Homo sapiens: one gene and its partners. The protein of the gene in region 1 interacts with the protein of each later gene in a pairwise test. Each region holds a gene or a part of one and is shown in the gene's direction. Other genes may lie near its edges.

Evidence for each region.
Region 2: the proteins of LHX9 (region 1) and KHK interact in binary tests that used the Homo sapiens proteins (3 or more experiments, as listed by UniProt).
Region 3: the proteins of LHX9 (region 1) and CWF19L2 interact in binary tests that used the Homo sapiens proteins (3 or more experiments, as listed by UniProt).

The regions. Positions count from the first base shown.
Region 1 is NC_000001.11:197,927,296-197,934,416, forward strand, and holds part of LHX9 (LIM/homeobox protein Lhx9), read left to right. Parts: intron 1-295; coding exon 296-498; intron 499-1,706; coding exon 1,707-1,964; 3' UTR 1,965-4,623; coding exon of another isoform or gene 4,624-4,680; 3' UTR 4,681-7,121. UniProt on the Homo sapiens protein: Involved in gonadal development.
Region 2 is NC_000002.12:27,096,722-27,101,333, forward strand, and holds the end of KHK (ketohexokinase), read left to right. Parts: intron 1-7; coding exon 8-80; intron 81-781; coding exon 782-928; coding exon of another isoform or gene 929-1,342; exon of another isoform or gene 1,343-1,357; intron 1,358-2,474; coding exon 2,475-2,563; intron 2,564-2,631; exon of another isoform or gene 2,632-2,698; coding exon 2,699-2,856; exon of another isoform or gene 2,857-2,943; coding exon 2,944-3,029; 3' UTR 3,030-3,062; coding exon of another isoform or gene 3,063-3,119; 3' UTR 3,120-3,714; coding exon of another isoform or gene 3,715-3,821; 3' UTR 3,822-4,041; downstream 4,042-4,612. Other genes in the region: CGREF1 (cell growth regulator with EF hand domain protein 1 isoform a precursor), read right to left, coding at 4,553-4,612. UniProt on the Homo sapiens protein: Catalyzes the phosphorylation of the ketose sugar fructose to fructose-1-phosphate.
Region 3 is NC_000011.10:107,454,802-107,462,523, reverse strand, and holds the start of CWF19L2 (CWF19-like protein 2), read left to right. Parts: upstream 1-4,698; 5' UTR 4,699-4,707; coding exon 4,708-4,812; intron 4,813-6,747; coding exon 6,748-6,858; intron 6,859-7,722.

The DNA.
Region 1 (7,121 bases):
TACTACTTAGGGTTTGTTCATATTCTCAAATTCTTCTAGCAACCATTAAACAAAAGAGAGGATTTAACCAATATTTTTCTATTGCATAAACTTTGGTTGTGTCTACATTAACAGAAGAGTTCAGCTTACTTTAGCAATTATCTTCTTTCTTTTTGTCTAGATACTACTCATAATTGGGTTGACAACCTTTTTCACTGCTGCTTTATTACCATAGCAGTGTCATACAGCCTGCCATCATGTCAGCTAATGCAAGAATTTCCACTGAGCAGTTGTTTGTTCACTGTTACTGCAACAGGTTGTAATGAGAATGAGGCAGACCACTTGGACCGGGACCAGCAGCCTTATCCACCCTCGCAGAAGACCAAGCGCATGCGAACCTCTTTCAAGCATCACCAGCTCCGGACCATGAAATCCTACTTTGCCATCAACCACAACCCGGATGCCAAGGACCTCAAGCAGCTTGCCCAGAAAACAGGTCTGACCAAAAGAGTTTTGCAGGTAAGACACATGCATCATTGACTGTGCATACATTTCCCTTCCCCTTCCCAGTAAAAATAGTGCTCTTCCCTGGTTAGAGTGACGCAGATATTTCCTATATTGCTTCTTACTAGTTTATCTTAGCTATCTCCCTAGAGGGTGTTCTGAGATTTTGCAGGGGCTTCCTGGAGGGTTCCCAAACAGAGACCCAGGGTCTTTTTAAATACAGCCACATTCTCTCTACATATGTGGAGATGGGCCCTCCAAAGGCAGCACAGCTTGTCTCACTGCTGTGCAAATGCGAGTGATGTTATTTGCACAGGCCGTGGCTTTATCGATTTCCATTAATATTATGCTCAGTGCACGGACTTGAGAGGGACCTGTTGGCACTGCCTTAACTCGGCAAACTTTTGGCAGCCTCACTCACCTTCCAAATTCAGGTGGAACCTTTTTTCCACTCCTGAAAAGCCAAAAGTATGGTTAGTGTTTCAGCAACCAATTGGAGCAAGTATTTTCCTGCCTTAACAAACCATAATTAGAAACAAAATATTGGAAGTTAGTTCTGCTGTCCAATTGATTTCCTAAACTCATCATGGCAAGAACATATAACTAATGAAATTATGATAGGTTGCTGTGAGTCACCTGTGATCTTCTCTCACTTCTTGGTGACAAATAGCAGGCATTTTAAATTCTGCTAAACAGTTTCAGGCTGTTCGAGGTCTGTGGCCCTGGGAGTTTTTTCTATGTGAAGAATATATACCGTGTGTTGGGCTCACGAATGGCTTGAAGTCTGTTTCAGTGATGTCCATTTCATATGAGTGATTCTTACTTTGCCATACTTTCAATGGCCCTGCTTCTACCTCTTCTCAAAAGATAACAGTTGAGGAATCACCGTGTATTTCCCCCTTTTTATCACCATGTGTTCATTTCCATGGTATATCCACTTAAGCATCAGTTGTTCCAAGTGGCACTTGTTAATGCTACAGGGTGGAATAAGTGCAGTTGAGAGATAATAAATCTGTAGTGTTACTTGAATAACTCTGTTTTAAAAGAAAAGAAAAAAAAGCCCCTTTCCTCCTAAGAAAGACAAACAATGATATTTAAAAGGAGAAACCTATATCAAAAAAAAAAAAGAAAGAAAGAAAAAGAAAAAAAGAAAAAGTGAGAGAGAAAGAAAAGAAATATAAAAATGAACATCGGTAAAGAAATCAATTGGGATTGGTTTGCAGGTTTGGTTCCAAAACGCACGAGCCAAATTCAGAAGGAACCTTTTGCGGCAGGAGAATGGGGGTGTTGATAAAGCTGACGGCACGTCGCTTCCGGCCCCGCCCTCAGCAGACAGCGGAGCTCTCACTCCACCCGGCACTGCGACCACTTTAACAGACCTGACCAATCCCACTATCACTGTAGTGACATCCGTGACCTCTAACATGGACAGCCACGAATCCGGAAGCCCCTCACAAACTACCTTAACAAACCTTTTCTAACATTGGTTTTTTTTTTTTAGTTTTTAAATTCTTCCTCTTCTTTTTATTATTATTCTAATTATTATTATTTTATTATTTACAAGACTTTTTTTTTCTTCTAACCCACAAGATATTTGGGGAATAAAAATAACAGCTTGGTGTGTAGCATCTGCAGCCACTTGGCAAATGAGTTTACAGTATTGTCTCCTTTAAGTGAATATATTTTGTCTACAAAGTGTATTTGGATTTAAAAAAATTAATTAGGTCTTTCAGTTGGTAAGGAGAGTTTTTGAATAATTCTAATAAGTGCCTCTTAAAATTGTATGTTACTTATTTCCAGAATCTCGAAGAAAAAAGAAAAAAGAGTGGTATTATTATGGGCAAATAATCATATTCCCACTTAAATGATTAGGTTAATAAAGAACCAGATAATTAATTAGTTACTTTTTAAATCTTGCAATTGTATGTGTGATTATGGAGTTTTGAAAACGTTACATTTTTTAAATCTTAAAACTGAAAACTTGTTTTTAGTATTTCTATTTCTTACCTGAACTGTTAATTCAAGTGAGGAATATGATGAAATAAAAGCATTAACTACAGACATTTTAAATAGTAATGATTAATTAGGTGAGAAATCTATTACAGGAATGTGACTTTTCCTTCTCTTAGGGGTGTACAACTCTAAAAACTTTTTACTTGGTTATTTGTTTTTCAACATTTGAAAAATACTTAAGCTCCCTATGTATCCATGAAAATTCCGCATTGATTTTGACATTCCATACTTTTAACCTCCTAAAGCTAAAAACAATAGCTCGGAAACCATTCTTTCTAGTTACTTTTTTTCCCAGGGAAAATGGAAATAAGCAAAATATAATGTTTTAAGAAGTAAAAAAATCAATATAATTTAATTAATAGCTCTATTAATTGGCTTCAGCTGTACCATGATATTGTATCTGGCATTCTATATGAATAATGTTTAAAATACCCAGCCTGGTAGACTTATACCAACAATTGGTTTTGTTTTGTTTTATTTTATTTTGACATAGGTTGACTTATGTATTGAAAATAATTTTTCTGATATTAGAGATTTGAAGTTATTAGTCTTAAAGTAGATAAACTCAGAAGCCTTGTGGATGCTGATCTGAATATATTTCCTAGTTTACAGTAGCATTTTTTTCTTTTAATTTAAGCTAAAATCTTAATGGTCTGGGCAGTGGTGAATGTTCATCTATTACGCTTCTGTTGTAGTTAAATACCAATTAGATTGTGGATTTCCTAAAAAAATAAAAAAGAAGTCAAGATATATGTCTTGCTTTAGTGGATTGTTAAGAATAACTTTGCACATATTTTCCACTTTTTGGACCCCTTAAATCTCCTTTGGTGGTCGAAGTGGCTATTTAATAGATTTTAAAGGTGTCCTTCTGGCTGTATAAATGTGTGGTTACATATTGACAGTTCACTGCCCACATTAAAGTGCATTATTGTAACTTTTGCTCAGGGTCTTTAGAAAATTAGCACAGAAAGTAGCTTATTTTTTAAAAAAAGATGATGGAAGATAAGTTAACACTGTAACAGAAGAAAGGTGTGATTGCCATTATATATTTAGCAAGTATGGTTATCATCTTATATGGAGCTTAAATCTTGACTTTTCATACTTCTATTACATTTTGGGCATTTACCACTAACCAGACCAAACAACCTTGGTAAGGCTGAGATCTTATTAATACACTTTTACAGGTAAAATATTGACACTTATAAATTTTGTTCTTTGACAGAACAATATATGGTACTATATAGATCTACTTTATTAAGTAGACTAATTATAACTCAGTTCTCCTATGTGCCTTATGATATAACTTGGAAGTAAGTTTGTGAAAAATCAGGATATATGTGTTGTTTGTTAAATTAACTGTTTTAAGCCCTTTTAACACCTCACTAGTTTTGTACTGTTTTACCTCTTATTTCTGAAACTCTTTTTATGGTGTATCCTGTTAGAGGGGACAAACATGTCATAGAAAGCAGTTGTGCACTCTTTCAAATATAGTTGATAAATTCAATAATCTTATATATTGAGCTTCGTGTTTATAGTACAGTAAGTGGTCTAGCAAAATTGTCCATGTTTCTTTGTTTATTGATAAATGCATTGTATAGAAACTATTTCCCCTAAATATTTATGGACCAAACAATTGTGATATATCCTATTAAATTTGTGTGAATAAAACATTTTGAATCTAAGGAGTTTTCTTTCCCATCAGTTTTATTTAAGTTTTAACCGTACTAGTGTGTTCCAGCATCTATATGTAAAAGCTTTTCAAATGGTAATACAACATTGTTAGAAATATTTAAACATACAAATAGTTTTTAGACTTCCAAACTTCTGATTCATATGAAATGTTACACATTGTTGCACAGGCAGTGTAATTCAACCTAGAAATACCTTTGAATATATTTGCTTATAACAAAAGTAATGCCCCACTGATTTGACTCAGTCCAATTTTTAGAATAAAAAGGCTAATTAGCATATAAAGTAATTGCATGGAACGAAACCTTAAATATGATTAAGATTTCATGTTAGGTCTATTGAGCACAAATGGATATTTGTAAATCTAAATAGAAATTGCAGACCCCTAAAAGCCAAGTTGCTCTGTAGTTAATAAATTGTCACTATGATTTTTTTCAGGGAGAACAAATCTTGGGGCATTACAGCCAAACATCCCGACGTTTGAAAATTCCCTAAAGTATTAAAAGAAGGGGAAAAGTTTGATCGGAAATCCACTGCAGTGAAGACAAAGACACTATTAGGTTATGATAATCATACATTAAAAAATTTATTAAGCCAAAAAAAAAGAGAGAGAGAGAGACTTAAATGTCATTTACTGAATGTTAACGAAACTTGTGTTCTTTATGGTGTCTAACACAACTGAAGGCCTAAAATTATGTGGTTTAAACAAAATTAGATAAACCATGTACAAAACCAGAGCAACCTGGCAGTAATATGCCCACCCCATATTTGAAAAAAATTATTATTGAAAAAAATTTCACACATTTGTCAAGCACAGTTGTAAAATAAAGTCCAAAACATTCATTTCACCTGCTTGCTAATGTGTATTAGTCCTGTTAATGGCATTTTCCAACTGTAAATTCAAAGAAAAGCTATCACCCATTTAAGAGTATAGGGATCAAACCCCAGTAATTTTAGCATTATTGTTTATCACTTCCTTTTTAAACAGAAATCTCTGCATGCACTTTTACATATGTCACCTCTAGTGTACACCTCTGTATGATGACTTATCTTTGCTGTTTCTTGTATGATAAATAGCTTTCATTAATAAACATTTATTTGATGCAAACATAGTTAACTTTATGTTAAACACATGCTGTTGAAATTAATTTTGAACACTTAAAGAGGCAGCACAGTACATTTACAACTTGTTATACTAATGAAAAAATACAAACAGCATAGTGAGATTAAATTCTGGTAATCTAGGATAAAATTACTTACTTGGTTTTTACCTTTTCATGACTTATTTTCATTTGTTGTATTCAATTGCCACATGTATTAAAAATAAAAAACAAAGTGAACCCAAATTACAACAAAATAAACCTTAGAATAAACTATTGTGTAAAATTTCAGCAACTTTTTTAGATTACTAGGGTAAAATTTATAGATCCTATGTGAGTTTACATGTTTGCTATGCAATGAACAAATTTATTGATGTATACAAATATATTCTGAACTATAAAAAGATCCAATCTTTGCATAGTTCAATTACATATGATTATTACAAACAAAAAAGCAAATGGAAAGACAGACAAATATTTAGGAATGAGGTTTTTTTTAATTGTTAAAGGGAATATTTGAAGAATAAAATTTTAGCTATTCCTATTTAGCCGTATATCCAAAGCATATGTTAAACAAACTAACATATACTTTCCAGAAAATTTTTCATTATGATGAAATTTTTATTATATACAAATGAACCCTATGTAAATGATGTAACTTTTATGAATGACAGACATTAAATATTTCACTTACATGTATTCTCAGAATTTTGAATGTTTTCTTAAATGCTTTCACTTCCTGAATAATAAAAAGAAAAAATTTTAAAGAAGAGAGAGCAACTTACTAATAAAAAAAAGCAATGCACCATGACAAGTAGACTATTTTGAGTGATCACAAATCATGCTGGTTTTGTCAGTAACTTGAATGTTTATGCCTCATTGAAACCTCATCCACAGCTATAGCAACTTAAATAGATTTTCCAATGCATTTCCAGCCAGTTTATTCAAATCTTTGCCCTACAGTCTTGCCTTCTTTCCCTGTTCTGTCACCTGTGGCAATTTCATTTAGAAGTATTTTGGAACTTCGCCTGGTTTTACAGACCTTTAAATATTTGTCTGGTATGTGAAATGCAGGAAGAGACCAGAGAGGGAAAGAACATAACTGAAATTAGACATCTGAAAAAAAAATACAAATTTGAAACAGGCACATTTTTTAAAACCAAAAAAAAAAAAAAAAAGAGAGAGAGAGAGAAAGGAGTACTAATTATGTGAGTGGGAAGAGGAAGCGTGTGATGCAGAGCTGGAAGGTCTGTTGTGCTTTACTGTGATGTAAAGCAGTCTTTGAGTCTGGGCAACTGCACATTTACTGTTTGGTGTGGAATAGAAAAATGTGGACCTCTTAGTTGAGAGCAGGACACTAAATTTTCATAGCTTCTACCTCCCAGTTGCCTGGGTTAGTCTAACTTCTGGCAGATTGATCTTGGGCAAAAAGCTTCACTGAGAGTTAGTGTCTGTGTGCTTTGGTTGAATAGCCACCTTAATACTGACTTACATAGTGGGTAGGTTTTTGATACCTCAAATAAGGATAAAACTCCATAATAAAGGACCCAAAGCAAATACTTTTAAAACTTAGGTGATTTTTCATCACCTAAAACATAAATAGCTTTATTTAGCAAAATCCCAGTGGAATCTACCACACATTCTTTTATAATAACCCTTTTTTGGGAGTCAAAGTATTGTTTTTTTATTAGCCACATATAAATATCATCTCATTTTCTGTTGCAGTGTGACTGCAAGGCATGTTGTGGTGGAAATCATTAGAACTGGGAAGCTCTGGAATGGAAATTTGGAATCGTGTCATTCTAGGCTCTTAAAGAGAATATTAGGGATAATACT
Region 2 (4,612 bases), on another chromosome or scaffold:
GACCTAGGAGCCTGCCAGATGTGTCTGCTACAGACTTTGAGAAGGTTGATCTGACCCAGTTCAAGTGGATCCACATTGAGGTAAGCCCTGCCTTACCTGTGTTTCAAGGGGCTCAACCTGCCAGCCTCCTCCACATGTTCTGCCTCCTTGGTTTCTTTGAATCATGAAGTACCTTAGAGATAAATGAACCCAACCCCCTCATTCTCTCTCCATCTTTCCTTATGTCTTCAGGTGAGAAAACTAAGGCCCAGAAAGATTAGATGACTTACTCAAGGTCACACAGCAGAACGTAAGCACAGCTGGCTCCAGGCAAAGTCCTGTGCTTTCTGTGCTACGGGCTGCCCCATTGCCTCCAACTCTGCCTCTGGCGGATGTCTGACTGCTTAGGGCCTGACCCATTACCTCTGGGGAAGCAGGAAGGACAGGGCCTGACTCAGCTCCCAAATAAAGGGAACTAGAGCCTTTACTCCAAGAGAGGTTTTGGAGTCTGGGTGGAAGGAAATCCTGAGAAGTCCTGAGTTCTAGCTCCATCATTTAACCTATGGTAGGTCTTTCACAGTATCTTTTATTCTTTAGTCTTCTCATCTGTGGAATGGAGTAGCTGGTTGATAAGGTCTTCAAAGTCCACGACAGCTCTGAATGTTGTAATTTAGGATGGGGTTCTAGCCCAGCCTCCCCGAGGCCCTCTCCCTCCTCACCCAGAGTTTCAGCGGGGCAGGAAGAATGAGGCAGATTGGCCAGGCAGTGCCCAGCGGTCCTGAGCTGCCCTGTCCTGTACCAGGGCCGGAACGCATCGGAGCAGGTGAAGATGCTGCAGCGGATAGACGCACACAACACCAGGCAGCCTCCAGAGCAGAAGATCCGGGTGTCCGTGGAGGTGGAGAAGCCACGAGAGGAGCTCTTCCAGCTGTTTGGCTACGGAGACGTGGTGGGTGCCCCATTCAGCCTCTCTTTGCCACTTCCAGCTAATTTGGTTCTTAAAGGGAGCCAGAATCCTTTTATCCTGCCTACCACAATTGGAATAGTGGTTCCTGGTTTGGTGGTGTTTGAAGATGGGGGATGGGGGTTAAAGCAAAGAAGTAGACCCCTAGCCTTGGGCTCCAGTGCAGGCCTCAGCAGTGAGCAAGGAGTAGAATGTCTCCACCCCAGGTGGGTGCATAGGTGTAAGAATGCCCAGAGGGCTTGGGTAGGGCTTAAACAGCCACAGGGCAAGCCTGTGTGGAAGCATCTCCTCTCTGGGGCTCCCCAGTCTTTTCCTCTGCAGAATGAGGGCACACAACTGTTCTCTGAGGTTTCTTCCAACTCAGGGGTGTCTGGCAGGTTGTGGGGGCTGCTAGGGTGAGGGAAGGGTGGGAAGGAGACTTGCATGAGTCTCTTTTTGAAAAGGCTGGATGTAAATGGAATTTGGGAAGTAATCCCAGCATCATAGCAGAAGTTGGTTGGAGACCATCCAGCCAAGGTCCTCAACCTTGTGACTTGTCCTCAACCTTGGCTGCATATTAAAAAAGATGAATGCAGGCCAAGTGTAGTGGCTCACACTTGTAATCCCAGAGCTTTGGGAAGCTGAGGTAGGAGGATTGCTTGATGCCAGGAGTCCAAGACCAGCCTGGACAACATAGCAAGACCCCTGTCTCTATGAAAATAAATTAGGCCAAGAGCAGTGACTCATACCTGTAATCCCAGCACCTTGGGAGGCCAATGCAGGAGGATCACTTCAGCCAGTCATTCAAGATTGCAAGACCCTGTCTCTATACAAAAAAAAAAAAAAAAAATTCCTGGCATGGTGGTGTGCACCCATAGTCCCAGCTACTCAGGAGGCTGAGGCAGGAGGATTGCAGTGCCTGAGCCCCACCATCTTGTTTTTGATTGGCAGGGGTAGAGCCAAGGCTTCGGTGTTTTGTTTTTTGTTTTTACCAAAACTTTCTCTGGAGATTCTAAAGTGTAGGTAGTGTTGAGGGAGCCTCTTTGTTTTCCAGATGAAGAAACCATACCTAGAGGACATAGTTGTGGGAAAAACCAGCAAAACTGCTCCAGGGAGCCAGCATGGCGGTGGTAGATTCCACCCCAAGGTGGCGCTCAAGGCTTTCTGTGGGTTTTCAATCCATTGATCAGAGAACAAACGGACCAGGCCTTTTGTTTTACAATTTACAAGGCTGTATTCTATTATATATAAGCATCGATAAAAATATGCTTCTGGCCAGGTGCAGTGACTCACACCTGTAATCCCAGAAATTTTGGGAGGCTGAGGCAGGAAGATCATATGGGGCCAGGAGTTCAAGACCAGCCTCAGGGAGACCATCTTCACAAAAAATAAAGAAAAAAGAAAACCACGTTCCCGTGGGACAGTGAGATGCTACGTTGGGGATCTATGTGGACATGTTGGGGGAGTCGTGTTGTAATGGGGGCAACGCTAGGCTGCTGTTGGTGAATGACGAGTTAGAAGTGACCACCAGCTTCTCTTCCACTGCCCACAGGTGTTTGTCAGCAAAGATGTGGCCAAGCACTTGGGGTTCCAGTCAGCAGAGGAAGCCTTGAGGGGCTTGTATGGTCGTGTGAGGAAAGGGTGAGCCGGGGAAGCCAGGAAGGGGCTTTAGAAGGTACAGGATGAGCCTGGACTCCAGGAGTCCGCCCTGGAGCTGGGAGGATGGCTGGGGGGACGGGGTGGGCTAACACCCAGCTGAGTGGAGCCGTCTTGCAGGGCTGTGCTTGTCTGTGCCTGGGCTGAGGAGGGCGCCGACGCCCTGGGCCCTGATGGCAAATTGCTCCACTCGGATGCTTTCCCGCCACCCCGCGTGGTGGATACACTGGGAGCTGGAGACACCTTCAATGCCTCCGTCATCTTCAGCCTCTCCCAGGGTGAGTATGGCAGCAGGAGGGGAAAAGGACTGGGACCTGTCCCTGCCCCAAACACCTGGCTGACCTAGCTACTTGCCCCTCCTCCAGGGAGGAGCGTGCAGGAAGCACTGAGATTCGGGTGCCAGGTGGCCGGCAAGAAGTGTGGCCTGCAGGGCTTTGATGGCATCGTGTGAGAGCAGGTGCCGGCTCCTCACACACCATGGAGACTACCATTGCGGCTGCATCGCCTTCTCCCCTCCATCCAGCCTGGCGTCCAGGTTGCCCTGTTCAGGGGACAGATGCAAGCTGTGGGGAGGACTCTGCCTGTGTCCTGTGTTCCCCACAGGGAGAGGCTCTGGGGGGATGGCTGGGGGATGCAGAGCCTCAGAGCAAATAAATCTTCCTCAGAGCCAGCTTCTCCTCTCAATGTCTGAACTGCTCTGGCTGGGCATTCCTGAGGCTCTGACTCTTCGATCCTCCCTCTTTGTGTCCATTCCCCAAATTAACCTCTCCGCCCAGGCCCAGAGGAGGGGCTGCCTGGGCTAGAGCAGCGAGAAGTGCCCTGGGCTTGCCACCAGCTCTGCCCTGGCTGGGGAGGACACTCGGTGCCCCACACCCAGTGAACCTGCCAAAGAAACCGTGAGAGCTCTTCGGGGCCCTGCGTTGTGCAGACTCTATTCCCACAGCTCAGAAGCTGGGAGTCCACACCGCTGAGCTGAACTGACAGGCCAGTGGGGGGCAGGGGTGCGCCTCCTCTGCCCTGCCCACCAGCCTGTGATTTGATGGGGTCTTCATTGTCCAGAAATACCTCCTCCCGCTGACTGCCCCAGAGCCTGAAAGTCTCACCCTTGGAGCCCACCTTGGAATTAAGGGCGTGCCTCAGCCACAAATGTGACCCAGGATACAGAGTGTTGCTGTCCTCAGGGAGGTCCGATCTGGAACACATATTGGAATTGGGGCCAACTCCAATATAGGGTGGGTAAGGCCTTATAATGTAAAGAGCATATAATGTAAAGGGCTTTAGAGTGAGACAGACCTGGATTAAAATCTGCCATTTAATTAGCTGCATATCACCTTAGGGTACAGCACTTAACGCAATCTGCCTCAATTTCTTCATCTGTCAAATGGAACCAATTCTGCTTGGCTACAGAATTATTGTGAGGATAAAATCATATATAAAATGCCCAGCATGATGCCTGATGTGTACAAGGCTCTCAAAAAGTTCTAGTGATGATTAATATTACTGGGGATGGGGTCACCTGCCCTGAGCTGCAGGAGAGCATGGGGTGTCTGAACACCAGGTGAGGGGGAACCGGTGAGGGTTTGGGGCCCAGGGATAGACTGAGCTTTCCTCACTGGGTCCTCTGCAGCCGGCCATGGCTAGCACCATGCGCTCTGCTGCCGGAGCACCGTGAGGCCCAGAAACACTGGGCAGGCGGCATCCCTGTCCTTTCGGTCCCCAACCCCGTTCCTCTGAGAGGGTCTGGGCAGGCTGGACGGGTAGAGAGGTGGCCGGGGGGATGAATTCATTCAGTTCTTTATTGGTAATCTGCCCCTTAACTTAGGGTCTCCCTGAGCTGCACAGAAAGACCTGATACCTACTGGGACCAGGCAGGGGGCACAGAGATGGTCCTTGTCCCAGCGTACATTTCCCCTGCCCACTTCAGGGCTTATGTTCTGGCACTGAGACTTCGTGGGGTACCTGTATCTTCAAGATCTAGATCTCATCATTCTCCACTTGAACAATGTGCACCTCAAAGTCATTTTGGGTGTTCTT
Region 3 (7,722 bases), on another chromosome or scaffold:
GTAATCAGGCAAGAGAAAGAAATAAAGGGTATTCTAATAGCAAGAGAGGAAGTCAAATTGTCTCTGTTAGCAGATGACATGATTGTATATTTAGAAAACCCCACCGTCTCAGCCCAAAATCTCCTTAAGCTGATAAGCAACTTCAGCAAAGTCTCAGGATACAAAATCAATGTGCAAAAATCACAAGCATTCCTATACACCAATAACAGACAAACAGAGAGCCAAATCATGAGTGAACTCCCATTCACAATTGCTACAAAGAGAATAAAATACCTAGGAATACAACTTATAAGAGATGTGAAGGAACTCTTCAAGGAGAACTACAAACCACTGCTCAAGGAAATAAGAGAGGACACAAACAAATGGAAAAACATTCCATGCTCATGGATAGGAAGAATCAATACTGTAAAAATGACCATACTGTCCAAAGTAATTTATAGGTGCAATGCTATCCCCATCAAGTTACCATTGACTTTCTTCACAGAATTAGAAAAAACTACTTTAAATTTCATATGGAACAAAAAAAGAGCCTGCATAGCCAAGACAATCCTAAGCAAAAAGAACAAAGCTGGAGGCATCACATTACCTGACTTCAAACTATACTACAAGGCTACAGTAACCAAAACAACATGGTGCTAGTACCAAAACAGATATATAGACCAATGGAACAGAACAGAGGCCTCAGAAATAACACCACACATCCACAACCATCTGATCTTTGACAAACCTGACAAAATCAAGAAATGGAGAAAGGATTCCCTATTTAATAAATGGTGTTGGGAAAACTGGCTAGGCATATGCAGAACACTGAAACTGGACCCCTTCCTTACACCTTATACAAAAATTAACTCAAGATGGATTAAAGACTTAAATGTAAGACCTAAAACCATAAAAACCCTAGAAGAAAACCTAGGCAATACCATTCAGGACATAGGCTTGGGCAAACACTTCATGACTAAAACACCAAAAGCAATGGCAACAAAAGCCGAAATTGGCAAATGGGATCTAATTAAACTAAAGAGCTTATGCACAGCAAAAGAAACTATCATCAGTGAACAGGCAACCTACAGAATGGGAGAAAATTTTTGCAATCTGTTCATCTGACAAAGGGCTAATATCCAGAATCTACAAAGAACTTCAACAAATTTACAAGAAAAAAACAACCCCATCAGAAAGTGGGCTAAGGGTATGAACAGACACTTTTCAAAAGAAGACATTTATGCAGCCAATAAACATATGAAAAAAAGCTCATCTTCACTGGTCATTAGAGAAATGCCAATCAAACCACAATGAGATACCATCTCATGCCAATTAGAATGGCGATCATTAAAAAGCCAGGAGACAACAGATGCTGGAGAGGATGTAGAGAAATAGGAATGCTTTTACACTGTTGGTGGGAGTGTAAACTAGTTCAACCATTGTGGAAGACAGTGTGGTGATTCCTCAAGGATCTAGAACCAGAAATAACATTTGTCCCAGCAATCCCATTACTGGGTATATACCCAAAGGATTATAAATCATTCTACTATAAAGACATGCACACGTACGTTTATCTCTGCACTGTTCACAATAGCAAAGACTTGGAACCAACCCGAATGCCCATCAATGATAGACTGGTTTAAGAAAATGTGTTACATATACACCATGGAATACTATGCAGCCATAAAAAGGATGAGTTTATGTCCTTTGCAGGGACATGGATGAAGCTGGAAACCATCATTCTCAGCAAACTAACACAAGAACAGAAAACCAAACACCGCATGTACTCATAAGTGGGAGTTGAACAATGAGAACACATGGACACAGAGAGGGAACATCACACACCAGGGCCTGTTGGGGGGTGAGGGGCTGGGGGAGGGATAGCATTAGGAGAAATACCTAATGTAGATGACGGGTTGATGGGTGCAGCATACCTCCATACCACGTGTATACCTATGTAACAAACCTGCACATTCTGTACATGTACCCCAGAACTTAAAGTATATATATATATATATATATATATATATATATATATATATATATATATATATATATAAAGAATGTGGGTACATGTCTAAAGGACACAGGAACCAGCTTGAAAGGGCTCTCACTGGCCTAACCTGGACCAATTTGAGGATCAAAATAAATACTGATAACGAATTTTTATCCCACTGAACAAAAACAGGAATCCACTGAGAAATTATGAATCTGTATTATATAAAAATAAATAACTTGAAAATTTGGTACATGATCTACATAGTTTCAAAGAACCACTTCACAAAATACTTATTATAGAAGGAAAAGAGGTACTTTACAGCAGAGAAGCTCTGCAGATGCCAGTTTATTTAAATGATCAGAATTAACATCACCTGTAATGGAACAAATGGAAATCATGCGCTACCCAACAGGATGCAGTAAGACCGCCTCACTTCTGTGATCGTCCTGCTTAAGAGGCCAAATTTGAATTTAATCACAAAAGAACCTCCGACAAACCCAAGTTGAGTGACATTCTATAACACAACTATCCTGCAATCTTCATGAAACTTTTGTAGTTAATTGTGATCATCTGACCTATTTCTGGATCATAGGATTTAAATGAAAGAAACTGAACTAGGCTTTAGGAAAAGCCATCATTTTTCTAATAAAAAATGAGGCCAGCTTAGCTAACAACGTTTACCCTTTGTCCTTTCTCTTTATTCTTGTTTATCAGATGCCGTGAACAGATGTGAAAGAATATGATACCCTGCTTGTGACTACAAATACTAAAGTCACAGACTGCAACAAAGCGAAAAAGGATAAACTATTTGGCTCCTTCAGCAATTGCACCAAGCCTGGACCAGTTACTTTTAGGCTCCTTGTTACGTTATCCTTTATTTGATTAAGCCATGTGACTGGATTCGCATTAGGTGTGGCCAAATGCAAACCTAGCCAAAATAACCTGCTTTTTCTTTCTTTTCTTTTCTTTTCTTTTTTCTATTTTAACATATCTAGTTCCCCTCTCTAACCCCAACTTTTTTTTGGGCAGTTTTATTTGTATTGCATGGTATTTACAAATTAATTGAGAAATGATTTTTTATGATGTTTTCTTCTTTAAGCACATAGTATACCTCTCCATTCGTTCTAGTCTTTTTGGGGAGCTTATGCAAGATTTTAAAGTTTTCTTCATATAACTTTGCACATTGCTCTAGACCGAATGTTTGTTTCCCCAAAATTCTTATGTTGAAATCTAATCCCCAATGTGCTGGTATATGGAGGTAGGGACTCTGGGAGGTGATTAGGTCATGAGAGCAGCACCCTCATGAATTCCTATAAAAGAAGTTCTAGAGAGATCCCTCTCCCTTTCCGCCATATGAGACACAGCAAAAATACTGCCCTCTAGGAACCAGGACACACCTTCACTAGACAGCAAATAGCCCAACACCTTGATTTTATCCAGCCTCCAGAACTGTAAGACATACTTGTTTGTTATTTATAAGCCATCCATTCTATAATATTTTGTTATAGCAGCCTGAACTGATTAAAACACACACGTTTCTAATATAATCACAGTTTATTTTTATTGAATTGATGCAAAACAGTGAAATGGATGTTTTTCTGAATTCCAAGAGAATCTGAAAAGACGTTGATGCTAGTTATGACAAATATCAGTCAATGTAGTCAGTTGATTAAATATTACAAGGTCGATTAGTAAATTACATTTTAAAATAAAATGAATACTTTCTATTGCATATCAAACAAGTAGGCATTGTGTGTTCAAGATTCAGACTCATAGAATGGTAGTGAATGTAAAAACTCTTGGAAAGCTTCTTGCAAACACACATTAAATTTTATGAAACCTGAAGAGAAAGAGTATTTACCTCAACCTGGCTTATGTTACTTATTTTTAGCGTCTTTAAGGTATCGTTTATAATTAATTCCCCAGCCTTCTTCTTCTTGTAAATGTAAGCTTAGTGTCTTATGTTCTCAAAGCACTTCATCACCTTAGAATGTCTTATTCTTCTGAACTTAAAAGTTTTATGTTTGGGCGATACATGCGTAAAACAAAACAAAGAAATCTCCGCAGAAATAAATAAGTAACTGTCCATTGTAATGAAAAATGCTTGGATGGATAAGTATGAGTAAATAATATGGGGTCAGAGGAAAAAATATAATGTAAACTTCTAACAAGTTAAGCACGGGTAAATTGTGAAGTGCAATGCAAAATTCACATGAGTGTTTCATATATTAAGTAAAATCCACCAAAACAAAACACTGAATCTTCAAGGCAATTCTGTCCTTCCTGCCAGCTGCCACTACCTTTCTGGCAGCCTCCCTTTATCCCATTCCTCCAGCACAGGGAAATGATGCTCTGGCGACAAAGGGTACTTCCGCAGAAAACTTTTGAGAGGTACCAACTTAACTTCCAAGAGCTTGTAACTTACTCCGGTGATTTTAAGACGAAATTGGTGAGAAAGCTGTTAATATAGTAAAAAGTGCATAATAAATATATACGGGTATTAATCCTGCTCACAATCGCACCCAACACCTGAAAGAATTAAACCCTCCAACACCCTTCGGGTCTTTAAAATCTGGGCTGCGGTAATCCGAGCCCTAAGCGACCTCAGATGTGCGCATGCCCTGTTGGTGGAGCCGTGCTCCTCCTTCCTCGGGTCCGGAAGTCCCGGTTTGTTTGTTAAATTACGACCGTCGTAAACTAGAATTTTCTTGCGGCTTCTTAGCTTTACGATGGCAACAAGTATGGCGGCTGCTAGTGGTAGATTTGAAAGTGCGAAGAGTATCGAAGAGCGGAAAGAACAGACCCGGAATGCCAGGGCCGAGGTGTTGCGCCAGGTACCTCTGTTTTGGGGCTTTTGTAGTTATTTATTGTTGTGGGAGTTGAGGGTTCCCGTAAGCTAGCCCACTCACCCCTTCCCTTACCTCGTCAGTACTGAATCTCACCTTAATTTGGGTGAGTTCTCCCTTTGCAATGCCGGTAAACCCTTTTGTAGCTACCGATTTTTTAGATGTTCTGGCAGGTGCCAGTTGCTAATTCTCTTTTCAGGCAGATCTGTCGCTTTTTCTCCAAGTTTCTTTACCTTTTAAGTTACCCATTCTTTACATTTCTATCACTCGGACTGCACACTTTGTAGGTCCCCTGCGGCTTGTAAGGACTCTGCCAGCATGTCTCGCAGCCTCAGTCATTGCTACTGCTGTATCTGAAATGAGATTTTCCTTTTTCGGAAACACATTCAAGTCACACTTGAATAGACTCAGTTTGACATTTCCTCCTCCTGTCTCTATTGGTATCAATTCCAGACTTACTGTAAGCTCTTACCAATCCAAACAAAAGTTAACACCAATCTCAGTATATTTAGCCTGTCACAAAAGATCGCGAAACATTGTATTTCTCACTAAACTTCAGATACATAGAGGTAACATACAAAGAATGGAGAAAGTAAGCTTCTGAATTATCTGACAATCTATTCAATATGTAAGAAGTGTGGCAATGAAAGAGAAAAGTTGCAGTTGGAGAGCAACAGAGAATTCAGTGAGGGTTTTTGTTTTTATTTAAGTTGGAAGAGTTTTAAACAAGTTTAAATGCAAATGAGAAGGAGCCAGCAGAGAAGAGGGAGAGGAGACTCTAAAGGGAAAATGACATAGTTTCAAAATTTGGCAAATAATTTGAGGGTGAAGCAGCCCCATTCTCCTTTAATCTCCAATTTTCTCACCCTGTTCTTTGGAGTCCATCATAAGCCCTGCTCTTTTCTCTGATATCGATTTTTCTGTTTGGTATATAACCATTGTATTCATCTTCTTGCCTACACCAAGAATTATTATATGCACCCAGGGAAAAGCTAGCTGCAGAATGTTGGACTACCTCTCCATGATTTTCCCTTTTCTGGAATATTAACTCTTCTAGTTCTTGTTGCTTCAGCAGTTCTCTGATATAAACCTTTAATAAATTATTTTTATATTTGATTAAAAAAAAAAAGAAAATGACTACAGCCAGGTTTTAAAGGGGAAGAGTGGGCGATTAGTCTTGGGTAGGTGAAATGTTGGTATTGTTTCGTAATTTCAACATATGTAATGTGTGTGTGTGGGTATATATATATTATTCATTCTTTTCTCTTTGGTATTTCCAGCAGTTTTTGGAGGGAGTAAGTTTCGTAAGTTGAGATAAATCTTATAGTAGAGATATGCATAGAATTTGAAAAGGACCAAACTGAGCTTTGGAGTTACAGGGAAAGAAAGAGGGCAGGAACGATTTCCTAGGAAAAACTTGCTTTGTTTGACTATCATTGAAGAATGGATAAAAATTACCAATATGATCCTTTCTTTATACAGAGATGATTCTTCCTGAGGCATTTTTGGGGCTGGGTATTGGGGCTACAGGCATTGCATATTGAAGGCGTGGAGGTCTAACTGTTGCAAAAGTCTTAAGGCAGTAGCCATGGGAATGGTGAAGGGAAAAGGGATTCCAAGTCATATTGAGCTAGGGAGCTTAGAGAGATGGGAGGGCCTGGACTCAGTCCCTGGATTCTCTCTGATTGGTAACTCAAATCACTGGAGATTGGAAATGCAGAAGGAGAGATTTTTGCTTTGTTTTGTTTATTTATTTATTTTTTTATTTTTTTACACTGGAGAAGCAAATCCCTGGCAAGGAATAGACATTCATTCATGAGTGGATATTTTTGTATAAAAATGACAGAGGTTTTTGTTTTCCTTTTTTTGTGAAACCCAGTTGGGTCAATTGCCAGTTTGTCTTTTTTTTTTCTTTGGTTGTAGGCTAAAGCCAATTTTGAAAAAGAAGAAAGGCGTAAAGAACTTAAGCGACTTCGGGGTGAGGATACATGGATGCTACCTGATGTGAATGAGAGAATTGAACAGTTCTCACAGGTGAATACTAACAGGTTTACGTGATGTAAGGATATCTGTCCTTTTTTGCACGTATTCAAGTTAATATTGGATGAATAATTTTATAGAATGTTTTCATAAGTTACAAAATGAATATCACATAGTTGGCATTGCTGAATAGTTTCATCTCTTTGGCAGAGGTAAGATATTGTAATATTTTGGACATTATGACTCAAGTTTTGTTATTTGAGTTTGGCTAGTAGAAGACAGCTTCAAATTTCTGGCCCACTATAGCAAGCTTATAGGCCTAAAAATTTATGCATTTTAAGCTTTATGTATTTATTTTATTTTATTTTTTTAGGTCTCAAGCCTGTTTTCCTATAATTTTTTTAAAAATTATTTTTAATTGACAAATAATAATTGTGTAAATTTATGGGTTAGAGTGTGATGGTTTGATCTATGTATACATTATAGAAAGATTCAGTCAAGCTAATGAACATATCCATCACCTCATCAACTTATTTTTTTGTGGTGAGAACGTTAAAAGTCTGTTCTTCAATGGCTTTGAAATAGATAATACCTTATTATTAAATGTGGTCATCAGTAATAGATCACTAAAACTTATTTCTAGTGTCATGAAAACTTTGTACCCTTTGATCAACATCTTCCCTTTCCCTATCCTTGCTCCTTCCCCTAGCCTCTTCCTATAATTTTAATTTGTGCTATCTTGTTATATTTTTTATGGCCTAATAGTCTTGTATAAATTTTTGGGGAGACCATAGAGGGATATTATATGTATGTGTGTTTGTGTGTGTATAGATGCATGTATACATGTTTGTGTATATATGTGTTTATTTGATTATATTTGTCACATTAATCTACAAATAAAGCCAAAATTTTCCCAGT